Regions from separate parts of the Homo sapiens genome. Here region 2 is linked to region 1. Evidence: fine-mapped expression QTL. A gene starts in region 1. The other region holds a variant in brackets. All regions are shown on one strand. Distances are between the middles of the regions.

The links. PIP is the estimated chance that this variant, and not a neighbour inherited with it, causes the effect.
Region 2: its variant is fine-mapped to the expression of PELP1-DT in subcutaneous fat (GTEx, PIP 0.98).

What each region holds. Positions count from the first base shown.
Region 1 is chr17:4,699,629-4,707,928 of GRCh38, forward strand. PELP1-DT (PELP1 divergent transcript) reads left to right here and starts at 4,602. Exons shown (of 2, transcript NR_103482.1): 1 at 4,602-4,742; 2 at 5,571-5,901. PELP1 (proline, glutamate and leucine rich protein 1) reads right to left here and starts at 4,509. Exons shown (of 17, transcript NM_014389.3): 1 at 4,235-4,509. The coding sequence starts at 4,483. It also overlaps the pseudogene RPS12P29.
Region 2 is chr17:4,643,128-4,660,342 of GRCh38, forward strand. LOC105371499 (a long non-coding RNA gene) reads left to right here and starts at 1,882. Exons shown (of 3, transcript XR_001752768.2): 1 at 1,882-2,872; 2 at 3,823-3,903. RefSeq lists silencers at 4,987-5,281, 6,457-6,672 and enhancers at 13,767-13,936, 14,992-15,161, 17,101-17,215. The variant C/T (reference allele first, on the strand shown) is at 5,140.

The sequences.
Region 1 (8,300 bases):
CAGGCCAGAGTTCGCAGGCGCAATCTCGGCTCACTGCAATGTCTGCCTCCCAGGCTCAAGCAATTCTCCTGCCTCAGTCTCCTGATTAGCTGGGATTACAGGCATGCGTCACCACGCCCAGCTAATTTTTGCATTTTTAGTAAAGATGAGGTTTCGCCATGTTGGTCAGGCTGGTCTCGAACTCCTGGCATCAAATGATCTACCCATCTCAGCCTCCCAAAGTGCTGGGATTACAGATGTGAGTCACTGCACCCAGCCCTAGAGGGTGATTTTTTTTTTTTTTTTTTTTTTTGAGACAGAGTTTCACTCTATCACCCAGGCTAGAGTGCAGAGGCGCGATCTCGGCTCACTGCAACCTCTGCCCCGAGTTCAAGCGATTCTCCTGCCTCAGCCTCCTGAATGGCTGGGATTACAGGATTACAGATGCCTGCCACTGCGCCTGGCTAATTTTTGTATTTTTAATACAGACGGGGTCACCATCTTGGCCAGGCTGGTCTTAAACTCCTGACCTTGTGATCCACCCACCTTGGCCTCCCAAAGTGCTGGGATTACAGGCGTGAGCCATCACGCCTGGCCGAGGATGAAGTTTTGAGCCTGTATGCTGATGAAAATGATCCAACAAAAAGAGAGGCCAGGTGCAGTGGCTCATCCCTGTAATCCCAACATTTTGGGAGGCTGAGGCAGGAAGATTTTTTTATTTAAGTAGGAGTACACTCTAAAATACGACAAAAAGTGGCCGGATGTGGTGGCTCATGCCTGTATTCTCAGCACTTTGGGAGGTCGAGTGGGGAGGATAACTTGAGGTCAGAAGTTCGAGACCAGCCTGACCAACATGGTGAAACTCCGTCTCTACTAAAAATACAAAATTAGCTGGGTATGGTGGCAGGTGCCTGTAATCCCAGCTACTCAGGAGGCTGAGGCCTACGTAGAAGACAGAACAAGACACTGTTTTTGTCCTTCAAAAGAATATACAGGATAAATGACATTTGGGATTTGCTTTAAAATGGTCCACCAAGCTGAGCACGGTGGTTCACCTCTGTAATCCCAGGATTTTGGGGGGCCAAGGCGGGAGTATCACTTGAGTTCAGGAGTTCAAGACCAGCCTGGACAACATATAAAGCCCCCATGTCTACAAAAAAAATTTTTAAATTAGCCAGGGGTGGTGGCACACCTGTAGTCCCAGCTACTCGGGAGGCTGAGGTGGAAGGATTACTTGAACCTGGGAGGTTGAGGCCAAGGCCGCAGTGAGCCATAATCTGGCCACTGCACTCCAGCCTGAGTTAGAGTAAGGCCCTATCTCAAAAAAAAAAAAAAGAAAAGAAAAGAAAAGAAAAAGAGAAAGAAAGAAAAAGCAAAGTTCCACTAAAAAAAAAAAAAAAAAAAAAAAGCCAAGCTATGGGAGGAATGAAATAACATTGGCAAACGTTCACTGTTAAATTTGAGTGATGGGGGCAGCATAGGGTGGGGTGGGGAAAATACTATTTATGTCTGAAATTTTATATAAGTTTTATTAATTACATACAAGAACAAATCAAAGACTTGCTGAATGTAGGGGAGAGAGGTTATAAGTATATGTGAAATAAATAAACAGACAGTAGGATAAAGAGCAGTCAATCATAGGTGGCCAAGAAATATATCCCAAAGGCAGTGACAAATAAGCAAAGAATTGAGAAGACTGGGAAGGAGGATGAGAGTTGGGGGGGTGGGGGCACTGCACAGGGAGGGATTCCAAGAGAAGAGTAAGTACAAAGCCTCTGAGGAAAGAACACCCAGAGGCTGAAGGATTTTTAAAAGCTGCAAACAGGATCAGAATTTTACTTTAGAAAGCTCACTCCAGCTACTGTGTGGGGAACGGATTACAGAGGGCAAGACTGAAGGTAAGGAGACCCGTTAGAAGATTGTTGCTATAATATACTCCAAGCTAGATATGGAGCACTGTGCTAGGATCATTCCATTTTGGAACTACTGAGCTTGCAGTACCTGCGGAAAAGCCATGTTGGTAGGTGGATGATCAAACAGTGGATCCCCCTTGCTCGCAAGCTCCAGGTCTATTGCTGACTTTCATTTCTCATCTTAACTAGACTAGAAATTCTCTGAGGGAAAGGACCATGTCTTATTTATCTACCTAGAGACGAGGAACAGTACGTAAAACATAACAGATACTCAATAAATGTTTGTTGAATGAAACCTTTGGGGAAGGAAAGGAAATCCTCCACATAATCCCAATTCAAAGGACACAAGTAGAAAAAAAATTCAAGGCAGGATGTATCTAAACAAGTAGCACAGGAAATATTAAAGGGCGGCCCTAGTTTCCCACATCACTCTTAGCTTCTTTACTCAAAATTCTACTAGACTTCAGACATGTAAGAAAAATAAGCAAGACGTTAAGTTCATGTAGTTGACTTTGAGGGAGGAGAGGAAGTCCTGAAAGAGATGATGAAAGAAATCACACATTTATAGGCGGGATAGGTAATATTTCACAAATACTTATAAAAAAAATTTCTGGGGGGCAAGGCATGGTGGCCCGTGCCTGTAATTCCAGCACTTTGGGAAGCCAAGGCAAGTGAATCGCCTGAACTCGGGACTTTGAGACCAGCCTGGGCAACATGGCAAAACCCCGTCTCTACCAAAAATACAAAAATTAGCCGGGCATGGTGGCGCATGCCTGTGGTCCCAGCTACTCTGGAGGCTGAGGTGGGAGGATCCCTTGAGGCTGGGAAATGGAGGTTGCAGTGAGCCAAGATCATGCCACTGCACTCCAACCTGGGTGACAGAGTAAGACCTTGTCTCAAAAATAATAATAATTCTGGGACTATTGTGAGATAAAGAAAACAGAAAAACCCCACTGTAATATAACTGACTGATGAAAACCACATAAATTAGAAGAGGGGAATTTAGAGACAAGAGAAAATACATAATCAGCTCCAGCCTCTGATATTGGGCTGAGATAGCAGAGATATAGTTTTGTCACCCTCAATTATGCAGAGTAATGTTAAAGACAAACAGATAGGGTTATCTGTGATAAATCTGGGGCTAAGGTTATTGACCCACCCAGCAAATTGTGACAACCATCTTCCTGGAAGGTAGCATAGAGCTAGGAAGGTCCCAGGAATGAAGGGTGGACACAGAAGATCTCGTGTTTATGGGTCTTGAAGGATGGGTAGAATTTGGGGGAGGTTTAGTGGGAGAGAAGGGAAGATAGGAGATTGTTATAAGGAGCAGCTATTATGGGCTAGAAATATGCCTTCTTAGAATCAGTGCCTTCACCCGGACAAGATGGTGGGGGTTCAAGCTAGAATGGGAGCAATGAGAAAGATGGAAAAGAGTGGACAGATCTGAAAACTACTCAAAGGATAAAATCAACAGGACTTGACAGATTGCTTATGGAGGTGTATGAAGAAGAGTTTAGAATTACTTGAGTGTCTAGCTTGCAGAACTGAATGGTTATCAGATTCCATTCTTATAGAAGTCCAAAGGCTCCTAACCCGGCCTAAAACGCTCTGCATGACCCGACCACTGCCTACCCATCTCACCAGTCTCATCTGTACCCACTCTCTTCCCCTCCACATCTGAGCCCCAGGAACGATGCCCTTCTTTCCAGTTCCTTCCTACCACAGGGTCTTCCCACATGAGCTCTCCTCTGACTGAACAGCCCCTCCCATATTTTTTCCCTACCCAACCCCTATTCATCCTTAGGGTCTCAGCTTAAACGCCGGTTTCTTTGGAAAAATCTCTGCCAGTCTTCAGATAAGGTTAGAGACCCCTGATATTCAATTCTCATCTTGTTTCGCAGCATTTTGTGTATCGCCACCACGTCTGTAACCGGAGCGCCTAGTACAGTATCTGACCCTCAATAAGAGCTCGGTAAATGTTTATTGTTGAATGCGTCATTCAGTCAGTCGAAACAATCCCCGAAACAGATATTGCCAGAGGAAAAAGAGACTTTTAGATTATACAACTAGTGAGTGACCGGGCCTGGAACCTAATCGATTCCTGTGTGCCGACCAATAGCCTAACAACAGAAAAATAAGGCCCATTTTTCCCCTGGAGAAACTCATGGCCGATAAAGGAGAAATACGTGCATCCCGTCCGGACTGATACCTGGATCCCCTTTCTGCCCGCAGCTCTCCTTCCTTCAACCTCCCTATCGCACTTGCACTGCACCGTAATCCCGGCGCACAGGTGCCGCGCCATCCTCCCCACAGGGCCGCGGGCACGCGGGCCACGGACTCACCTGGGCCCCGCCCACCGACCCATGCAGCCGCAATAGGCACATGAGCCCGGGCAAATGTGGGGCCGAGCGGTTTGGGGGATGCACCGGAGCAACGGCAGACCCCGTTCGAGGTTGCAGCAAACCAGAAACACTCTCCAGCAGCAGCAGGCGGAGCCGCGGGCCCGAGCTCACTGCCGAGAGACCCCCGGTCCCGCCAGGAACCCCAGCCGCGGAGCCCGCAGAGGGCCCACTCAGAACGGCTGCCGCCATCTTCCCCCGGGTTCCAGTGGTGGCGTGGCGCGATGACGCAAACACACCGCGACGGCCGCCTACTGGGGAGGGGGCGTGGGGAGGGGGCTGCGGTCTTGCGCACTGAGTGAAGGCAGGCTGGACTCGCGGGCTCAAGCTGGGAAGGAGCATGCGCGGAGAGAGCAGCCTGGGCGCCGAGGCAGCGGGGTGCTCGGTTCCCGGAGTGATGGCGGATGAGGCTGCCTGTGAGCGTGTCCGAGGCGGTCCTGTGATGTTAAAGGTACACGTGGTCCGGACAAAAGGCGCCAAAGTCGGAACGATTTCCATTTAGCGGACGGAGTCTTGGGACATCTTCGCTGTAGGAATCAATAACTCTCATTTTTTTTTTTTGAGACGGAGTCTCGCTCTGTGGCCCAGGCTGGAGTGCAGTGGCGCGATCTCGGCTCACCGCAACCTCCACCTTCCAGGTTCAAGCGATTTCCCTGCCTCAGCCTCCCGAGTAGATGGGATTACAGTCGCGCGCCACCACGCCCGGCTAATTTTTTTTGTATTTTTGTAGAGATGGGGTTTCACCATGTTGGCCAGGATGGTCTTGAACTCCTGACCTCAGGTGTTCCGCCCGCCTTGGCCTCCCAAAGTGCTGAGATTACAGGCATGAGCCACCGCACCCTGCCTAGGAATCAGTAACGTGTGTGTGTGTGTACGCGCGCCAAAGATTTATTTCTTCATTTCTTGCATTTCAAGTACTCTTCGATGTCATCCTTGGCCTGAGACTCCTTGCCATAGTCCTTAACTACTACACAACTGCAACCAACCACTTTACGGGGTTTCCCCTCTCTGTCGATTTTTACAGAGCCCTACCCATTCTCCTAGTTTCTTGTTGTCATCAACCTTAATTAGGTTGATTTGGTGTTCAGCACAAAGGCCTCCACCAACTTGACATACATAGTAGGCTCATCATAGTTGGATGCAAGCACACAAAGATGGGCTTGGCGTTTGTCTAAGGCTTTGGCAGCTTCGCGAATTCCACGTGCTAGGTCATGGTGGATGAGAGCGGTCTTCAGCACCTCTTGTGAAGCAGTATTAACATCCATTACCCCTCCAGCAGCAATGCCTTCCTCGGCCGTGGCGGTGGGTTACAAGTGAAGCTGAATCTTGAAGGTACCCAAGCCTCCGCCTCCGCGCAACTCGGCAGCGGCAGGGAAAGAGAAGGAATCAATAACTCTCTAGGTAACTTGAAATCACAGACATTTTTAACTACATTTGCAACTTCAGAAATGATACAAGACGTGCGCCTTGCAAAAGCCAATTCAAACAGTACAGAAAGGCATAAAGTAAAAAGAAAAACTGCTCCTCCCCCGCAAAGCCCTGCCCCAGTAGCGTGTATACTTTCCTAATATTAGTCTATGCACAAGCACATAAATGAATATTTTACAAGATTGGGGTCTGCGTGTGGCTTGTTTTCACTCATGGCCTTCTTTATGCTGTTTTTTAAACTGTGGTATGAATGAAATGGGTGCACCATGATTTAATAATTCTATTGCTGAATTAATGCTTAAAGGCTGCTCCAGCTTTTTGCTAATGCAAACTGTAGTGAACACGCTAATACCTCTATGTTTATGTTTGTGTACTTTTGTGATTGTTAGATTCAAATCCAAGAGTCATCATTTTTCTTTTTTTGAGGAGTCTCTCTGTCGCCCAGGCTAGAGTGCAATGGCACGATCTCGGCTCACTGCAACCTCCGCCTCCCAAGTTCAAGTGATTCTCCTACCTCAGCCTCCCAAGTAGCTGGAAGTACAGGCACCCACCACCATGCCCAGCTAATTTTTGTATTTTTAGTAGAGACGGGGCTTCACCATGTTGGCCAGGCTGGTCTCAAACTCCTGACCTCAAGTGATCTGCCGGCCTCAGCCTCCCAAAGTCCTGGGATTACAGGTGTGAGCCACCCCACCTGGCCCGTTTTTCCTCTTATTGCCTCCTATCCAATCCTTCAAGTCCTGGCATTCAAGGCCTCCAAAATACATTAACCCAATAGCGTTAATTTTTCTCCATCTCCACTGCCGCTCCGGTCCAAATTACCATTCACTCTCACCTAGTCTATTACAAAGCCTTCGTTGCTCTCTGCTTCCCTCTTAGCACCCTGTAGTCCCTTCACACAGCAACCAAAGTGGTCTTTTCAAATGTAAACAAGTTGTTGTCACTCCTAGCTTCAACCCCTCTGTGGCTTCCAAATGTGATGAGAATGAAATCCCATCTCGTCACTGAGGCCTAAAAGAATCCACCCAATCTGACTCATACCCACCTCCCTGACCTCAACACATACCACAAGTACCCTTTTCCTTCTCTCTTCCTATTCTTGAGCCACGCTAGCCTTCTATTTTCCAGCAAAGCCCATTCTCACATCCGAACCTTTGCACATGTTGCTGATTATGCTGGAGAAACTGTCCTTTGATTCTATGTAACTAACGCCATTTTGCCATCCTGAGACGACTTCTTTTTCGGTAGCTCCCACTCCAACCCCCATCAGCCTCCATCACATTTGCCTGTTTATAATTCATGTCATTACCAGAAATTTGCTTTCTTATTAACTATCTCTTGTCTAAAATACAAACTCCATGAAAGGGCTCCTGTCTCCTACACTATGCTATTCCTATCACCTAGAACAGTGCCTGGTACATAAAAGGTGCTGAAAAAATATTTCCCCAGGCTGGAGTGCAGTGGCATGATCACAGCTCACTGCAGCCTTGACCTCCCAGCTCAAACGATCCTCCCACCTCAGCCTCCCTAGTACATGAGACTCTAGGCACTAGCCACTATATTTGGCTCATTTTTCGTTTTTCGGAGGTTTTTTGTTTTCTTTTTTCCTCGAGATGGAGTTTCGCACTGTCACCCAGGCTGGAGTGCAGTGGCGCGATCTTGGCTCACTGCAAGCTCTGCCTCCCAGGTTCAGGCCATTCTCCTGCCTCAGCCTCCCAAGTAGCTGGGACTACAGGCGCCTGCCACCATGCCGGCTAATTTTTTGTACTTTTTTGTGGAGACAGGGTTTCACCACGTTAGCCAGGATGGTCTTGATCTCCTGACCTCGTGATCCGCCCACCTCAGCCTCCCAAAGTGCTGGGATTACAGGCGTGAGCCACCACGCGCGGCCCGTTTGTTTTTGAGACGAAGTTTCACTATTCTCACTCAGGCTGGAGTATAACGGCACGATCTCAGCTCACTGCAACCTCCGTCTCCCAGGTTCAAGTGATTCTTCTGGCTCAGCCTCACGAGTAGCTGGGATTATAGGCTAAATTTCACGATGTTAGCCAGACTGGTCTCGAACTCCTGACCTCAGGTGATCCACCCCCCTCGGCCTCCCAAAGTACTGGGATTACAGGCGTGAGCCACTGCACCCAACCCCCTCTGCTTTAAAAACCAGTACTGGTTCCACATGTCCTTCTGTGGGGCCCTCCATCTCACTCCATCTGCTATACAAAATCCTCCACAGCCTGTTCCAGACTTCCCCACCAACACTACGCAACAGGACGTGCCTTGTCTCTCTCTTTGAAATGCCCTTTCTCAACTTCTGCCCAGCCAGGCGCGGTGGCTCACACCTGCAATTCCAGCACTTTGGGAGGCTGAGGCAGGTGGAACACAAGGTCAGGCGTTCGAGACCAGCTTGGCCAACATGGTGAAACCCCGTCTCTATTAAAAATACAAAAAGTAGCCAGGCATTGCAGGTGTCTGTAATACCAGATACTCACGAGGCTGAGGCACAGAATTGCTTGAACCCAAGAGGCAGGGGTTTTGTTGAGCCGAGATCCCACCACTGCACTCCAGTCAGGGTGACAGAGTGAGA
Region 2 (17,215 bases), 52 kb before region 1:
GACTCTCACTTTTGTTTCCCCTGGAGACGGCACAGTGTCAGGGTTTGTGGGTGTCAATAAGTGTTTGCTGAAACACACTGAGCTGAAAAATTCATTATAAATGAATGCTTCCCTTGGGGGAGACAAAGGGAAACAAATTATCAGGCAATGTAAACAAAAGGGGAATACTAACATAAACTTCATGGCATGGATTACAATCAGCCTGGTAACACAAATGAAGTCCACGAAAATATGTCTGTGATGCATATTTTCTGGTTTGCTTGTTTTTTGTTTTTGGTGTTTTTTTTTTTAATGAGATGGAGTCTTGCTCTGTTGCCCGGGCTAGAGTACAGTGGTGTGATCTCGGCTCACTGCAACCTCCACCTGCCGGGTTCAAGCGATTCTCCTGCCTCAGCCTCCAGAGTAGCTGGGATTACAGGCACCCACCAACATGCCCGGCTACTTTTTGTATTTTCAGTCGAGATGGGGTTTCACCATGTTGGCCAGGCTGGTCTTGAACTCCTGACCTCAAGTGATCCACCTGCCTCGGCCTCCCCAAGTGCTGGGATTACAGCCATGAGCCATCATGTCCGGCCCTGCTTAATTGTTTACTGGGAAGTACATTCATGTGATTCAAAATTCAAAAGGTACAAAGTGATATTCACTAGTTTCTCCCTCCTCTTGGCCCCAAGCCACCCAGTTGCTCCACTCCCAGCAATCACAGTTACCAGTCTCTTCTGTGCACTAATATTACTGAGCAAATACACGCCTATCTTTGTCTTTTTCTGCACATTGTAGCATGCCTTATTCTGCATCTCGTTTTTCCATAGTGCAACAGGAGGTCATTCCATATCCATGCATAAAGAGCTTCCTTGTTCTTTGCTAAGGCTGCCATTTGCTGTAACGCCATAAATTCTACTAGTCTCTTGTAGTGGACACAGGTTATTAGTAATCTTTTGTAGCTATGAAAAAGTGCTGAAAGAAATAAACCTCGCATATACAGCATTTCTCGTATGAAAGTATCTCTGTAGAACAAAACCCTGGAGATAGAATTTCTGGACCAAAAGCATATCGAATTTAGGCAGAAACTGCTCAATTGCCCTCTGTAGAAAGTTGTACTGATTTAGACTCCCACCAGTGGACTGTGTATGAGAATGCCCATTCTTCCTCACTCTTGCCAATGGTGTGTTCATAACCTTACCTTAGCCAATCGGATAGGTGAAAAATGGTACCCTAGTTTTAATTTTAATTTGCATTACCCTTATTATGAGTAAAGTTGAGCTTTTTTTTTTTTTCTTTTTTTGAGAAGGAGTTTTGCTCTTGTCGCCCAGGCTGGAGTGCAGTGGCGCGATCTTGGCTCACTAAAACCTCTGCCTCCCGGGCTCAAGCAATTCTCCTGCCTTAGTCTCTCGAGTAGCTGGAATTACAGTCGCCTGCCACCATGCCCGGCTAATTTTTTGTATTTTTAGTAGAGATGGGTTTTCGCTATGTTGGCCAGGCTAGTCTCGAACTCCTGGCCTCATGTGATCAGCCTGCCTCAGCCTCCCAAAGTGCTGGGATTACAGGTGTGAGCCACCGTGCCCAACCAAAAGGTTTTTTTTATAAGTGAAATTCAGAAAAATCAAAATGTGGTGGGTAAAATTCATCTTCCATAGAAATGGCACAAACCCAGTAATTTTCTTGCAGATTAAAAGTGTGATTGAAGAGTTGGGAAGGCTTCCAAAAGTAATTCACAGTAACTTGTGGGTAGACTGAGTGAGGTTAGATTATGATGCAGTTGTGATGGGAGAGGAAAGACCCAGGCCATTTCTTCCCGTCTTGGATAGGGATATCTATGGTGGTTAGCCTATGCCTGTTCCAACATTGTATGTTGGGGGTGGGGTCAGATGACTTTCTCTTTAGTTTACAGGTCTTCAGAAGAAGAGGAGCCCAGGCACGGTGGCTCATGCCTGTAATCCCAGCACTTTGGGAGGTCGAGGTGGGAGAATCAGCTGAGTTCAGGAGTTCAAGACCAGCCTGACCAACATGGTGAAACCTCATCTCTACTAAAAATACAAAAAGTAGCCAGGCATGGTGGTGGACACCTGTAATCCCAGCTACTCAGGAGGCTGAGGCAGGAGAATCGCTTGAACCCCAGAGGCAGAGATTGCAGTGACCTGAGATCGTGCCACTGCACTCCAGCCTGGGCAACAGAGTGAAACTTCTTTAAAAAAGAAAAAAAAAAAGAAGAGGAGGAATTGTATTCTGGAAGTATACTTAAGGTAATACAGTTGAGAAATCTCATCTATACATGGACCTGATTTAGATGATGAAATTCTAGACTTTGAGCTGATGCTATAATGGGATTCGACTTTGGGGTAGCTTGAGAGGGAGCGAGTGTATTTTGCATGTGGAAGGAATGTAAATCACCAGAATTCAGAGGGCATGCTCGTGGTGGCCATTCTTTAAAACATCCCCCAGTGATTCCGACCTCCTGATATGCATGCCTTTCCATAGTCTCCTACATTGTGTCTGGGTTGGTCTGCAAAGCCAATGCAGTATGAAATGATGTGTGTGACTTCCAAAGCTAGGTCCTAAAAGACATTAGGGCTTTCCGTCTCCTCCCTCCCCACTCTCCCTCTTTCTTGTTCTGCTTTCTCTGAGAGAAATTAACTACTATGTCATGAGGTCACTCAAGAAACTCTATGGAGAGGTCCACGTGGCAAGGAACTGAGCCCTCCTGCTACGAGCCAGTGAGGAACTGAACCCTCCAACTACCAACCACGTGGGGCAGCCATCTTGGAAACAGATCCTCCTGCCCCGGTTAAGACTTCAGATGACTACAGCCAATCTCTTGACTGAAACCTCATAAGACTCTTGAACTAGAACCAACTGACTCCCAAAACTGTGTAAGGTAATGGGTGTTTTTTGTTTTGTTTTGTTTTTGAGACAGGGTCTTGCTCTGTCACTCAAGCTGGAGTGCAGTGGCATGGTCACAGCTGACTGTAGCCTCCACCTCCCAGGCTCAAGTGATCTTCCCACCTCAGCTTCCCAAGTAGCTGGGACCACAGGCATGTGCCATCACACCACTGAGTTTTGAGGTCGTTGTAAAGCAGAAATAGATAACTAATACGGTCTGCATGCTTATTTTCTGAATCCTCAAACTCCCAAGCTTATGTAAAGCCAAAAAATATTCAATGAACTGACCACTTTCAAAATTAGTTCACTCACCTCTTCCTCCTTTTTTTTTTTTGTGGCTTTTGTTTTTTTGTGTTTGTTTGTTTGTTTGTTTTTGACCCAGAGTCTCGCTCTGTCACCCAGGCTGGAGTGCAATGGTGCGATTTCGGCTCACTGCAACCTCCACCTCCCAGGTTCAAGCAATTCTCCTGCCTCAGTCTCCCGAGTAGCTGGGAAAACAGGCGCTTGCCGCTATGCCTGGATGATTTTTTGTATTTTTGATAGAGACAGGGTTTCACTGTGTTGCCCAGGCTGGTGTCAAACTCCTGAGCTCAGGTGATCGGCCCGCCTCGGCCTCCCAAAGTGCTGGGATTACAGGCGTGAGCCACTGCACCCGGTTCTTCCTGCTTTATTAATGCCAGCTACCTTTGTCCATCTAACTGGCTACAGAGTGAAATTTCAAGTCTTGAAACATTAGAAGACTTTGTAAAGTCCATAGAAGTACTGTTAGAAAACGGATCAGTCAGCAAAGCAACTGACAAATAATGTTGATGTTGAAAGAAGAGGCATCCACCTGAAGTGGTTCAGATGAGCTGAGCAGGGACAGGAGAGGGCCAGTCAATAAGTGACACATTGGCTGCAGTCAAAGCGACAGGCTTGGACAACGAACAAAGCTTTTCTATGCAGGTGATGTCCACTGGTCACTTATGTGTACCCTCTCTGTCCCGATATGGCTCCAGGACACTGACATCAGATGATATTTCCAAGGTAAGTGCAGAGAAGACCCTGGATGTGGACTTTGCTTCTCCATGGGCCTCCTAATGCCTGGGTTTTTGAAACTCAAAAATCCAAAACTGAGCTCAAGTGCAGTAAGCCCCAGCTGAGATTATGAAAGTACCAGGATCATAAAGATACATGTGTCCACTGGGTGCAGTGGCTCCTACCTGGAATCCCAGCACTTTTGGAGTCTGAGGCGAGAGGATCACTTGAGCTCAGGAGACCAGCCTGGGCAACATCGTGAGATTCTGTCTCTACAAAAATAAAAATTGGCCGGGTGCGGTGGCTCACGCCTGTAATCCCAGCACTTTGGGAGGCCAAGGCGGGTGGATCACCTGAGGTTGGGAGTTCGAGACCAGCCTGGCCAACATAATGAAACCCTGTCTCTAATAAAAATACAAAAATTAGCCGAGCATGGTGGTGGGCAACTATAGTCCTAGCTACTTGGGAGGCTGAGGCATGAGAATCACTTGAACCCAGGAGGCAGAGGTTGCAATGATCCGAGATCGTGGCCACTGCACTGCAGCCTAGGTGACAGAGCGAGACTCCATCTCAAAAAATAAAAACAAAAATAAAAAATATTAGCTGGGCATGATGGTGTTTGCCTGTAATCCCAGCTGTGTGGGAAGCTGAGATGCAAGGATCACTTCAGCCCAGGAGTTCGAGGCTGCAGTGAGCTATGATTGTGCCTGTGAACTCCAGCCTGGACAACAGAGGGAGACCCTGTCTCTGAAAAAACAAAATCAAAAAAATATGTTAATATCGTACTTTACAAGTATTATTTTGTCAAAGTGGTGTCGAGAATGTCAAATATTGCTTCTCAGCTGGGCGCGGTGGCTCACGCCTGGAATCCCAATGCTTTGGGAGGCTGAGGCGGATCACCTGATCAGGTCAGGAGTTCGAGACCAGCCTGGCCAACATGGTGAAACCCCATCTCTACTAAAAATACAAAAATTAGCCAGTCATGATGGTGCGCACCTGTGATCCCAGCTACTTGGGAGGCTGAGGCAGGAGAATGGCTTGAACCTGGGAGGTGGAGCTTGCAGTGAGCCGAGATTGCGCCACTGCACTCCAGCCTGGGCAACAGAGCGAGACTGTGTCTCAAAACAAAACAAAGAACATGTCACTGAAATGTAGGCCTGAGGGAAAGAAGCAAACGATCAGTGGAATTTTTTTCTGCCCAGTGTTAAAAATTGAAATTGACCTCCAAGCTGTCAATGCCTTCAA[C/T]TCTACCATTGCCCAACAATTCTCAAAAAGATACAGGGTTTGGACATCAGACTTCAGATAAACATACTCCCACAAGCAGGAGGAAAAACCACTCTGCCCGTGTGGGTTAAGGCTAGAGGAGCTTTAGATGAACAAAAGCACCAAATAATATGGAATGCAGTTTGGAAAACAAGGATCGGTTAGAGGAAGATGGTAATTTACAGAGGAGCTTCACTGGGAAAATTCAGACTTCAGAATAAGCTGAAGATCTTCCTGAATTCACACAAGAGAGGGAGAGGGTATCTTCTACCTTAGAAAATAAAATAAAACAGAGTTGTTCCTGGAGGAACCACCTTAGATTTTGGAGCAGAAATTGATGTGAATCTGGCTCAGCCTCTAAGGGCAAATTCTCAACAATCAAGATGTCAGGGAGTGGGGTTCAGTGGTCCTCCCACTTCTGATTTCCTAAGAACAAGCTGATTGGAGGCTGTTGGCGCCGAGAAGCTATAAGCAGAACTAGAAGCAGAGCAGGCTATATGATTGATTAGGGGTGCATATTTGCCTTTCTCAGTTGGTCCTAAGTGGAAGTGGAGACAGAAATGAAGAAATCTGGCAGTTATTGACCAAGCCCTTACTGTTTGAGGCCAATTGCTGTAGAGGATTTGTTTGGCTTCCTTCCAGGGCTGGTTGCTACAGAGGTTATGGGACAAAGGTCTGTGTTTATATTTGATTCTGTCCATTGTCCTTTTGTATAGTCAGTCTCTCACTAGCGATGTATGACAGTTCCAGCTGCTCTGTATTCTCACCAGTACTTGGTACTGTTTGTTTTGGATGCAAGGGATGGTTTGTGGGGGAGTGGGGAGGGATTAGCCATTCTAATAGGTATACACTGGTATGCCGTTATGGTTTTAATTTACATTTTGCTAATGACTGACTATACTGAGCATCTTTTCAAGTGTTTATTTGACATTTGTATATCTACTTTGGTGAAGTATCTATTCAAACTTGTGTGGATTTTTTTTTTTCCTCGTTGTTGAGTTTTGAGTTATTTATATATTTGTGGAGCAACTCCAGCTTGGATGCTAAGCAGCTATGTTGACTTTTTTTTTTTTTTTTTTTTGTAGAGACAGAGTCTCATTTTGTCACCCAGGCTGGAGTGCAGTGGTGCGATCTCGGCTCACCGCAACCTCTGCCTCCTGGGTTCAAGTGATTCTCCTGCCTCAGCCTCCCAAGTAGCTGGAATTACAGGGATGCACCATCACGCCCAGCTAATTTTTGTATTTTTAGTAGAGACAGGGTTCACTATGTTCACACTGAGACCAGTATGCGCCAGACTGGTCTCAAACTCCTGACGTCAAGTGATCCACCTGCCTTGGCCTCCCAAAGTGCTAGGATTCCAGGCGTGAGCTACCGTGCCCGGCCTCATGTAGACTTTTGATTAACCACAGTTCAAGGAGCCTGTAAGATTTCCAGTTTACCTATTGTTCCTTGTGTAAGAGTATGTACTTACCATAAAGCCTGCCCTTCAGCAATTGTCCTATACATCCCTTCTGAAGCATGCACCCTTTCCGTATGATATATAAGGCCTGGGTCTAGGGAGTAGTGGAGAGGGGATCCACGATCTTGTCTCACCACCACCTGAGACACAGATGTGGCTTCTGTTCCTAAGTTTCTATTAAATGTTTCTGAGAAACTAGATATGTCAGCCTCTTTCTTCGGCCTCTCAGCTTCCTCAGACTTTTGCAGATAGGTTTGCGTAAGTCTGCCCAGCGTGGAGCAATATTTTAGATATTAAGTCCTTTTTTATTTATTTATTTTTATTTTTTTTTTGAGATGGAGTCTCACTCTATTACCCAGGCTGGAGTGCAGTGACGCAATCTCGGCTCACCGCAATCTCCACCTCCCCGGTTCAAGCGATTCTCTTGCCTTAGCCTCCCAAGTAGCTGGAATTACACGCATGTGCCACCATGCCCCGGCTAATTTTTGCATTTTTAGTGGAGGCAGGGTTTCACCATGTTAGCCAGGCTGGTGGTCTTGAACTCTTGACCTCAGGTGATGCGCCCTCCTCGGCCTCCCAAAGTGCTGGGATTACAGATGTGAGCCACTGCGTCCCGCCAGATATTATGTCCTTTGAAAGACGTGTGATTTACAAACATTTTCTCCCCACAAGCAGCATCTCAGAGTGAAGATGCCTTTTTATCTCTTAGCAGTGTCTTTAGCAGAGTAGTTTTGAATTATGATGAAGTACAATTCATCAATTTTTTTCATTAAGGATTGTGTTTTGCCTATGCCTAACAAAAGACCATAAAGATTCTCTCCTGTTTTCTCTAGAAAGTTTATGATTTCACACTTTATATTTAAGTCTGTGATCCATTGAGTTAAATTTTGTATGAGGTATGAAGAATGGGTCAAGTTCATTTTTTGCATATGAATATTCATATGCAAATATCATTCCAGCACCATTTCTTGATTCCTCCATTGAATTGCCTTTGCATCCTTGCCAAAAATCACTTCACCACACCTATGCCTATGTTTGGGCTATTTTTCTCCATGATCTACGTGCTTATCATTCCACCAATACTACACTGACTTGATGACTGTAGCTTTATAAGTATTGAAATCAGGTAGTACTAGTCTTGAAACATCGTTCTTCATTTCCAAAACTATTTTAGATATTCCATTACCTTAGCCTTTTGCTATAAATTTTGCAATCTGCTTATTGATATTGATAAAAATTATTAGCATAAATTCCTACTGTATTTTTGGCCGGGTGCAGTGGCTCACGTCTGTAATACCAGCACTTTGGGAGACTGAGGCATGAAGGTGACTTAACCCCAGGAGTTCGAGACCAGCCTGGCCAACATGGTGAAACTCCGTCTCTACTAAAAATATAAAAATTAGCTGGGCATGGTGGCGGGCACCTGTAATCCGAGCTACTCAGGAGCTGAAGCAGGAGGATTGCTTGAACCCAGAAGGCGGAGGTTGCAGTGAGCCAAGATCATGCCATTGTACTCCAGCCTGGACAACAGAGTGAGACTCTGTCTTAAAATAAATAATTAAAATCCTTTTTTTTAAAATTGGGATTGCATTGAATCTATATATATATATATATATATATATATATTTTTTTTTTTTTTTTTTTTTTTGAGACAGAGTTTCGCTCTTGTTGCCCAGGCTGGAGTGCAATGTCGCAATCTTGGCTCACTGCAACCTCCATCTCCCAAGTTCAAGTGATTCTCCTGCCTCAGCCTCCCAAGTAGCTGGGATTACAGGCATGCACCACCACACCTGGCTAATTTTTGTCTTTTTAGTAGAGACGGGGTTTCACCATGTTGGCCAGGATGGTCTCGATCTCTTGACCTCGTGATCCGCCCACCTCAGCCTCCCAAAGTGCTGGGATTACAGGCGTGAGCCACTGCGCCTGGCCGTGACTTCTGAGACTAGGTCAAATGCCATGCAATTCCTTTCACTTTGCTGCCTTGGGATCACTCTTGCTAACTCTGTGAGTGAGCCTTTGCTCACTCTTGGAACGGTCACCATGCTGTGAGGAAACCCAGGTGGCATGGAGAGACCATGTGTGGATGTCCCAGCCGACAGCCCTAACTCTAGATCCAGGTAAAAAGCCAGTACTGACCACCAGTATGACTTAGGAAGTCTTCCAGATGACTCCAGCCTCAGCCACTGTCTAACTACAACCACATGAAAGTCTCCAAGTAAGGATAATTTAGCTGAGCCCCTGTCAATTGTCAAAACTCTAAACGCTAATAGTAAAATAATGATTGATGTCTTCAGTCGTCATTTTGGAGTGATTCATTATGCAATAACTGGAACAGACATGCAGAAGTCAAAGACAAAGTAGAAGAAGGCCTGGAGAGATGAACTAAGTCACTCCTTGTCTCAAGAAGTGTTGGCCAGGCGCAGTGGCTCATGTCTATAATCCCAGCAGTTTGGGAGGCCAAGGCGGGTGGATCACCTGAGGTCAGGAGTTTGAGACCAGCCTGGACAACATGGTGAAACCCTGTCTCTATGAAAAAACTAAAAATACAAAAATTAGCTGGGAGTAGTGGTGCACACCTGTAGTCCCACCAACCGGAGAGGCTGAGACAGGAGAATTGCTTGAACCCGGGAGGTGGAGGTTGCAGTGAGCCCAGATCACACCACTGCACTCCAGCCTGGGCGACAGAGCGAGACTCCATCTGAAAAAACAAAACAAAGTGTTGGCGGAAACCACAGGCCCCCTTGCCTTACAGGAGACAGAAGCCTAGGGGATAAGGCATACCAGCTGCAAACAGGGCAGACATCCACCCAGTGGCACTCCACTTTGTGGATGCCAAGAGATGTGTGGTGGCCGGGCATAGTGGCTCAAGCCTGTAATCCCAGCACTTTGGGAGGCCAAGGCGGGTGGATCATGAGGTCAGGAGATCAAGACCATCCTGGCTAACACGGTGAAACCCCGTCTCTACTAAAATTACAAAAAAATCAGCCAGGCGTGGTGGCAGGCACCTGCAGTCCCAGCTACTCGGGAGGCTGAGGCAGGACAATGGCATGAACCCGGGAGGCGGAGCTTACAGTGAGCTGAGATTGCAGGAAAAAAAAAAAAAAAAAACAAACAAACATGTGTGGAGCCCACTAGCTGAATCTAGTGTGAAAAAACAAACAAAAAACAGGCAGGATATACCAATAGCTCTCCAGGTCATCCTTTAACTGATTATTTTCCAGCCCCACCCAACATCAATTAGCCATATGTACTGATGGAAGTCATGTAGGTCGAGCACAGGAGACATCACAGAGAAAAGAGTGAGGAAATTTAACCAGTTGCTAAACAACCAGAAGGAACCAGGAAATAATCCCCCAAAAAAGGGCCTTAGGGAAGGATCCTGTCCAACCAACCCTTTTGGAGGAAATGAGAGGAGTACTGGGCTTAATCATTGGCTGTAAGATGACGATGACTCCAGCCTTGGTCTAAATACACTGTCCATCATCTGGGTGAAGCGGAGGAAGACGACGTGAGTTCAAGAACTCCAGAATTCTTATTAAATCCCAAGTCTTTGATGTGGAAATAAAGTTTAGGAAATGGTTATGAAAGAAAAATGCCTTGTAGAAAACTTCTGAATAATTTTAAATTAAGAGGAACAGTGGTTGAACTAGGTAAATCAAGAAGTATGAGTACATTTATGTTTACAGAAATAAAGATTGACTAAAATATGAAATACCACAAAGCCAAAGAATGCAAGTAGGACAAATTTTGATTTTATCTTCGTCTTGAAATAAATTAAACATGGAAAATTCAATGAATTAGATTTCTTTTCTGTCTGACTCTAATGAATAAAACCCATGTGTGTTATGTATGTGTAATGTGTGTATGTGTGTGTGTGTGTGTGTGTGTGTGTTTTCAGTTCTATTCAGGACATAAGTCAAGCTATTAAAAACAAATATTTACAATATTGGCTCAAACTGTGCCTGTTTTCAGAATGAAGTTATCAGGATTTTGGTCATTTGGAAGTAATAAGGTTATACTTGGCTATAATGTATTAAAAGCATTGCTGAGAGACTTGGAAAGAAATAAGGTTTTTTGGAAACCTCAGAACCTGAGAAAAGAGTTGGCAACTGGAAGATTTTCTAGTGAAATTCCAAGTGATATGGTGTCATTTGAAAATGATACTTAATCCTGCAAACAATTTACATGGAATTAGTTGTTTTCAGTTCAGCTGCTTCACTTTGAACTTAAAAGTGAAAGATAGGCCGGGCGTGGTGGCTCACACCTGTAATCCCAGCACTTTGGAAGGCTGAGGCGGGTAGCTCACCTGAGGTCAGGAGTTCGAGACCAGCCTGGCCAGCATGGTGAAACCCCCGTCTCTACTAAAAATACGAAAATTAACTGGACATGGTGACACATACCTGTAGTCACAGCTACTCAGGAGGCAGAGGTGAGAGAATTGCTTGAACCCGGAAGACGGAAGTTGCGTGAGCCGAGATCGTGCCATTGCACTCCAGCCTGGGCGACGGAGGGAGACTGTCTCAAAAAAAAAAAAAAAAAAGGATGTAGTAAGAAGCTTTGACCACCCAAACCCACCCATGACTTGTGAATGTGTGTGCAATTTCGGAAACACCTGAGATTCAATATAAGGTAAACTGGGCCATAGATACCGCAGTAAGATTAAGAAAAACAAAATACTTGTAAATGTTCTAACTGAAATGTTGAACTGAAGACAGAGTATTTAACATAAAGAGGAGGCTAAAGAGCAAGAGTGTACCAGGTCAAACTGTCACCAGGATATCTGACAAATGTCGCTACCTGAAATGCCTGTGAAGAGACAGACGGGGAAGAGCCTTTGCAACTCTCTCCTTGGGGCAAACGGTAGGCTGTGGCTCAAAGATGAGTCAAGGAATAGGGTTGTGTGGAAGTCCCTACAGTCTGCCTCAAGCACAGAACACACAGTACATAAAATAAACACACGGAAGATTGGCCTCTGCCATTTTTTATTCCCAAGGTGATACATCCATCCATTCCACCCTATGCCTGAGAAAGCTGGCCTCAGCAACCAGGGTGAGAACACTACCTCTCAGTCCAAAGAGATACTGCAGACGGTCCTGATTAAAAAAAAAAAAAAAAAAAAAAAAAAAATGGGGGAGGGGAGAGAAGGGGAGGGGAGGGGGCACAGTGGCTCACACCTGTAATCTCAGCACACTGGGAGGCCGAGGCAGGTGGATCACCTGAGGTCGAGGGTTCGAGACCAGCCTCACCAACATGGAGAAACCCCGTATCTACTAAAAATACAAAATTAGTTGGGCATGGTGGTCCATGCCGGTAATTCCAGCTACTCATGAAGGCTGACGCAGGAGAATCACTTGAACCTGGGAGGCAGAGATTGTGGTGAGCCGAAATCACGACATTGCACTCCAGCCTGGGCAACAAGAGCAAAACTCCGTCTCCAAAAAAAAAAAAAAAAAAAAAAAAAAAAAAAAAAAAGCCAGACGCCGTGGCTCATGCCCATAATCCCAGCCCTTGGGAGGCCAAGGCAGGCAGATCACCCGAGGTCAGGAGTTCCAGACCAGCCTGCTCAACATGGTGAAACCCCGTCTCTACTAAAAATACAAAAATTAGCTGGGCGTACTGCCACGCACCTGTAATCCCAGCTACTGGAAAGGCTGAGGCAGGAGAATCGCTTGAACCTGGGAGGCGGAGGTTGCAGTGAGCCAAGATTGCGCCATTGCACTCCAGCCTGGGCAACAGAGTAAGACTTCATCTCAAAAAAAAAATTGTTTTAAATATATAAACTCGTAAGAAAAAAGACAGTAGGAGAGATTACAACTGCAGATGAGATTTAACAGATTTTGTCACCTGGAAGCAGCCAGGTGATAACCGACTTAACAGATTAGAAAATGATGAGAACGGTGGGCCCAAAATTGGTGGATTCTTGGGCTCACCGACTTCAAGCATGAAACCGCGGACCCTCGCAATGAGTGTAGCAATTCTTAAAGGCAGCGTGTCCGGAGTTCGTTCCTTCTAATGTTTGGACGTGTTGGGAGTTTTTTTCCTTCTGGTGGGTTGGTGGTCTCGCTGGCTCAGGAGTGAAGTTACAGACCTTCGCGGTGTTACAGCTCTTAAGGCAGCGCGTCTGGAGGAGTTGTTCCTCCTGGTCTCGCGGTTCAGGAGTGAACCTGCAGACCTTCGCGGTGAGCGTTACAGCTCATAAAAGCAGTGTAGACCCAAACAGCGACCAGACTTACTACAAACAGCACAAACAAACAAACAAAAAATACAAAGAACAAAACAAAAAAACAACACGCACACACGTGTTCCAGCTTGTTGTTTCTGCGACCTCGGGCAGCCTGCTTTTATTCTCTTATCTGGCCCCACCCACATACTGCTGATTGGTCCATCTTACAGAGAGCTGACTGGTCCGTTTTACAGAGAGCTGATTGGTCTGTTTTCACAGGGTGCTGATTGGTGCATTTACAATCCCTGAGCTAGACACAAAAGTTCTCTATGTCCCCACTAGACTAGCTAGATACGGAGTGTGGACACAAAGGTTCTCCAAGTCCCCACCAGAGTAGCTAGATACAGAGTGGATTGGTGCATTCACAAACCCTGAGCTAGACACAGGGTGCTGATTGGTGTGTTTACAAACCTTGAGCTAGATACAGAGTGCCGATTGGTGTATTTACAATCCCTTAGCTAGACATAAAGGTTCTCCAAGTCCCCACCAGACTCAGGAGCCCACCTGGCTTCACCCACCCGGTGGGTGGGTCCCGCAGCAGGCCGCACGTGGAGCTGCCTGCCAGTCCCGCGCCATGCGCCCGCACTCCTCAGCTCTTGGGTGGTCGATTGGACTGGGCGCCTTGGAGCAGGGGGCAGCGCTCGTCGGGGAGGCTCGGGCCGCACAGGAGCCCACGGAGCGGGGGTGGGGAGGCTCAGGCACGGCAGGCTGCAGGTCCCGAGCCCTGCCCCACGGGAAGGCAGCTAAGGCCCGGCGAGAAATTGAGCACAGCAGCTGCTGGCCCAGGTACTAAGCCCCTCACTGCCCGGGCCGGGGGCGCCGGCCAGCCGCTCCGAGTGCGGGGTCCGCCGAGCCCACGCCCACCCGGAACTCACGCTGGCCAGCAAGCACCGCGCGCAGCCCCTGTTCCCGCTCGCGCCTCTCCCTCCACACCTCCCCGCAAGCTGAGGGTGCCGGCTCCGGCCTTGGCCAGCGCAGAAAGGGGCTCCCGCAGTGCAGCGGCGGGCTGAAGGGCTTCTCAAGCAAGGCCAGAGTGGGCGCCAAGGCCGAGGAGGCGCCGAGAGCTGCCGGCACGCTGTCACCTCTCAACGAGATGTGCTGGGGGGCAGAGCTGGGGTTGTGAGACCACCAAAATGCATGCCAGTTCCTGACGCAGTGTTACCGAGTGAAAGGGCTCGCTGCCCCATGCACTAGAAGCCGATACTATGGCACCAGGTTTTTGAGAAAACGAAAGCTTGTTATCGCAGTTCGACCAACAAGGAGACAGAAGTCCAGCTCAAATCTTTCTGTGCCAGCTTTAAGGCAGTGTCTTCATTAGAAAATGTTTAAGCCGGGCGCGGTGGCTCACGCCTGTAATCCCAGCACTTTCCGAGGCCAAGGCGGGCGGATCACGAGGTCATGAGATCGAGACCATCCTGGCTAACACGGTGAAACCCCATCTCTACTAAAAAATACAAAAAAATTAGTGGTGGCAGACGCCTGTATTCCCAGCTACTCGGGAGGCTGACGCAGGAGAATGGCGTGAACCCGGCAGGCGGAGCTTGCAGTGAGCGGAGATCGCACCACTGCACTCCAGCCTGGGCGACAGAGCGAGACTCCCGTCTCAAAAAAAAAAAAAAAATGTTTAGCGGGTGGATTCTGAGATGAATAGGTGATTAGTGGAAGGGAAGGAAAGGTCTGGAAAGTCCTCGGGCCTCCACAGTGGTATCTTCATGCCTCTTCATGGGTCATAGGTGCAAATTTGGGGGGCGCTAGTGTGAAAGGTGCAGTGGAAAGGCTGTGAGGTCAGCGGGCTCATTCTGCATAGACTCCAGCTGGCCATATGGATTCCAACTGATTTCAGCCAGTTTTTTTAATCTCATAAGCAGAGGAAGTTTCAGCATTTCAGCAAGAGGTTTCTTTTCTTATCTGCCATCCTGCAAACTTAAGAATTTCTGTTAGTCATTGGTTTCTTTCTCTTTGGGGCATAGTTTCAACAGAGTCCTGAAAAAGCTCAAAAATTGAAGGCACCAATTACCTCTGAATGCACAGACATAGAGTAAGATTGGACACAGAAAATCAGCTGAAAATAGCTAAAGGCAGCAGTTAGACCCCCAGATCTCTTTCCCCAATCTGCACAGCCAGGAAATTACCTCTGCCTAATCCTGGGGGAAATATAAGATTATTTTTGGCTGGGCACGGTGGCTCACGCCTGTAATCCCAGCACTTTGGGAGGCAGAGGTGGGCTGATCACAAGGTCAGGAGTTCAAGACCAGCCTGGCCAATATGGTGGAACCCTGTTTCTACTAAAAATACAAAAATTAGGCAGGCATGGTGGCGGGCGCCTATAGTCCCAGCTACTCGGGAGGCTGAGGTAGGAGAATCACTTGAACCTAGGAGGCAGAGGTTGCAGTGAGCCAAGATCGCGCCACTGCACTCCAGCCTGGGCGACAGAGCCAGACTCCGTCTCAAAAAAAATAAAATGAAATAAAATAAAGATTATTTTCTGGGGAAACCAGGCACAGCTGAGTGTCAGGTTGCAATTCTATGCTGAAAACAACATACTGGACAGGGGGATTCCCCGCCCCCACACACCCAAGCTTCCTGGACACCAGCAGCCTGGCTTACACCCTCTGAGTCAGAGATAAGAGATCTGGGGAGACTGAGCATAACCAACAGACATGGCCTAGAGATGCTGGCATCTGGCATCCCCATCACCCCCAGCAAAGTCCTCTAGTTGAAAAGTTCCAGTAATGCACACAGTTTCCAATGAGCTCACAGGGCCTTACTTTAACTATGACAGCCAAGCACCACCAGATATTTAAGGAAAGCTCCCACTGTGAAATAAAGAGACCAGACAGAAAGGGAACTTGGAGAAAAGACAGATAAGAGCGTGCAGAGGAAAACTTTTTCAAAATATTATCGTAATGTACAAAGAGAGATAAGAGAAGATATTGCAGCCATGAAGCAAGAACAGGAACCTATTTACTACAGCAACAAAAAGAACATTCGGATTATAAGGAATCTAAACACTAAACACTTGGAAATCAAAACTTGATAGCAGAAATTAAAATTTCAAAAGAAGGATTGGAGGAAAAGTTGATGAAACATCCCAGAAAAAAAGACAAAGACATAGAAATCAAGAAAGAAAAAGTAAGTAAAATTAGAAAGTAAGTCCAAAACTCAACATCCAAACAATAGAATTTCCCGAATAAGAAAAAAATGTGAGGAAAACATTTAACATAAACAAGAAAATTTTCTAGACCTGAGGACATATTATTAGTTCCAGGTTGATACAACCCACCAAGTGCCAACAAAATGAACATAAACAGACCTGGACCCACGCATAGCACTGCACAATTTCAGAAAGCTGGGGACAAAGAGCAAAATCCTAAAAGCTTCCAGAGAGAAAAAAAAAAAAAAAAAAAAAAAACATTGCTTACATACAAAATGACAAAATGAGCCAAAACGACCTCAAACTTTTTTTTTTTTTTTTTGAGAGAAAGTCTCACTCTGTCACCCAGGCTTCAGTGCAGTGGCACACACATGGCTCACTGCAACCTCAACCTCCTGGGCTCAAGCAATCCTCCTGCCTCAGCCTCCCGAGTAACTGGGACCACAGACGTGCCCCAACATAGTCAGATAATTTTTTAAATTTTTATAGAGATAGAATCTTGCCATGTTGCCCAGACTGGTCTCGAACTCCTGTGCTCAGGCAATCCTCAGGCCTCTGCCTCCCAAGGCGCTGGGGTTATAGGCGTGAGCCACCGGGCCCATCAAATTCTTAATGGCAACATTGGAAAACAGAAGAAATGACAAAATGTCTACAGGATTTTGAGGGAAAAGAATTTCTGATCCTTGTACCTGGCCAAATTGTCAAATAAACATGATGATAAAGTTATTTTCAGAAATGCAAGGAGTAAACCCTTTTACCTCCTACACACCCGTTCTTAAGAAGCTGTTGGAGGATGTGGTCCACTGAAATAAAGAAATAAGCCAAGAAAGAGGAACGTATGGGATCCAGGAAACAGAAAGGCAAAAGGAAATTCCCAAGGATGAGGAAGAGAAGTTCAGAATAAAATAAGAGGAACAGTCAGTCCAGAGTGCAGCACGAAGTATATCTCCAAGAATAAATGACCGAATGAACGAATGAATCTTACTTTGATTAAATATAAATTATAATAAGATGCAAGGCCGGGCGCGGTGGCTCACGCCTGTAATCCCAGCACTTTGGGAGGCCGAGGCGGGTGGATCACGAGGTCAGGAGATTGAGACCATCCTGGCTAACACGGTGAAACCCCGTCTCCACTAAAAATACAAAAAATTAGCCGGGTGTGGTGGCAGGCACCTGTAGTCCCAGCTACTCAGGAGGCTGATACAGGAATCGCTTGAACCCA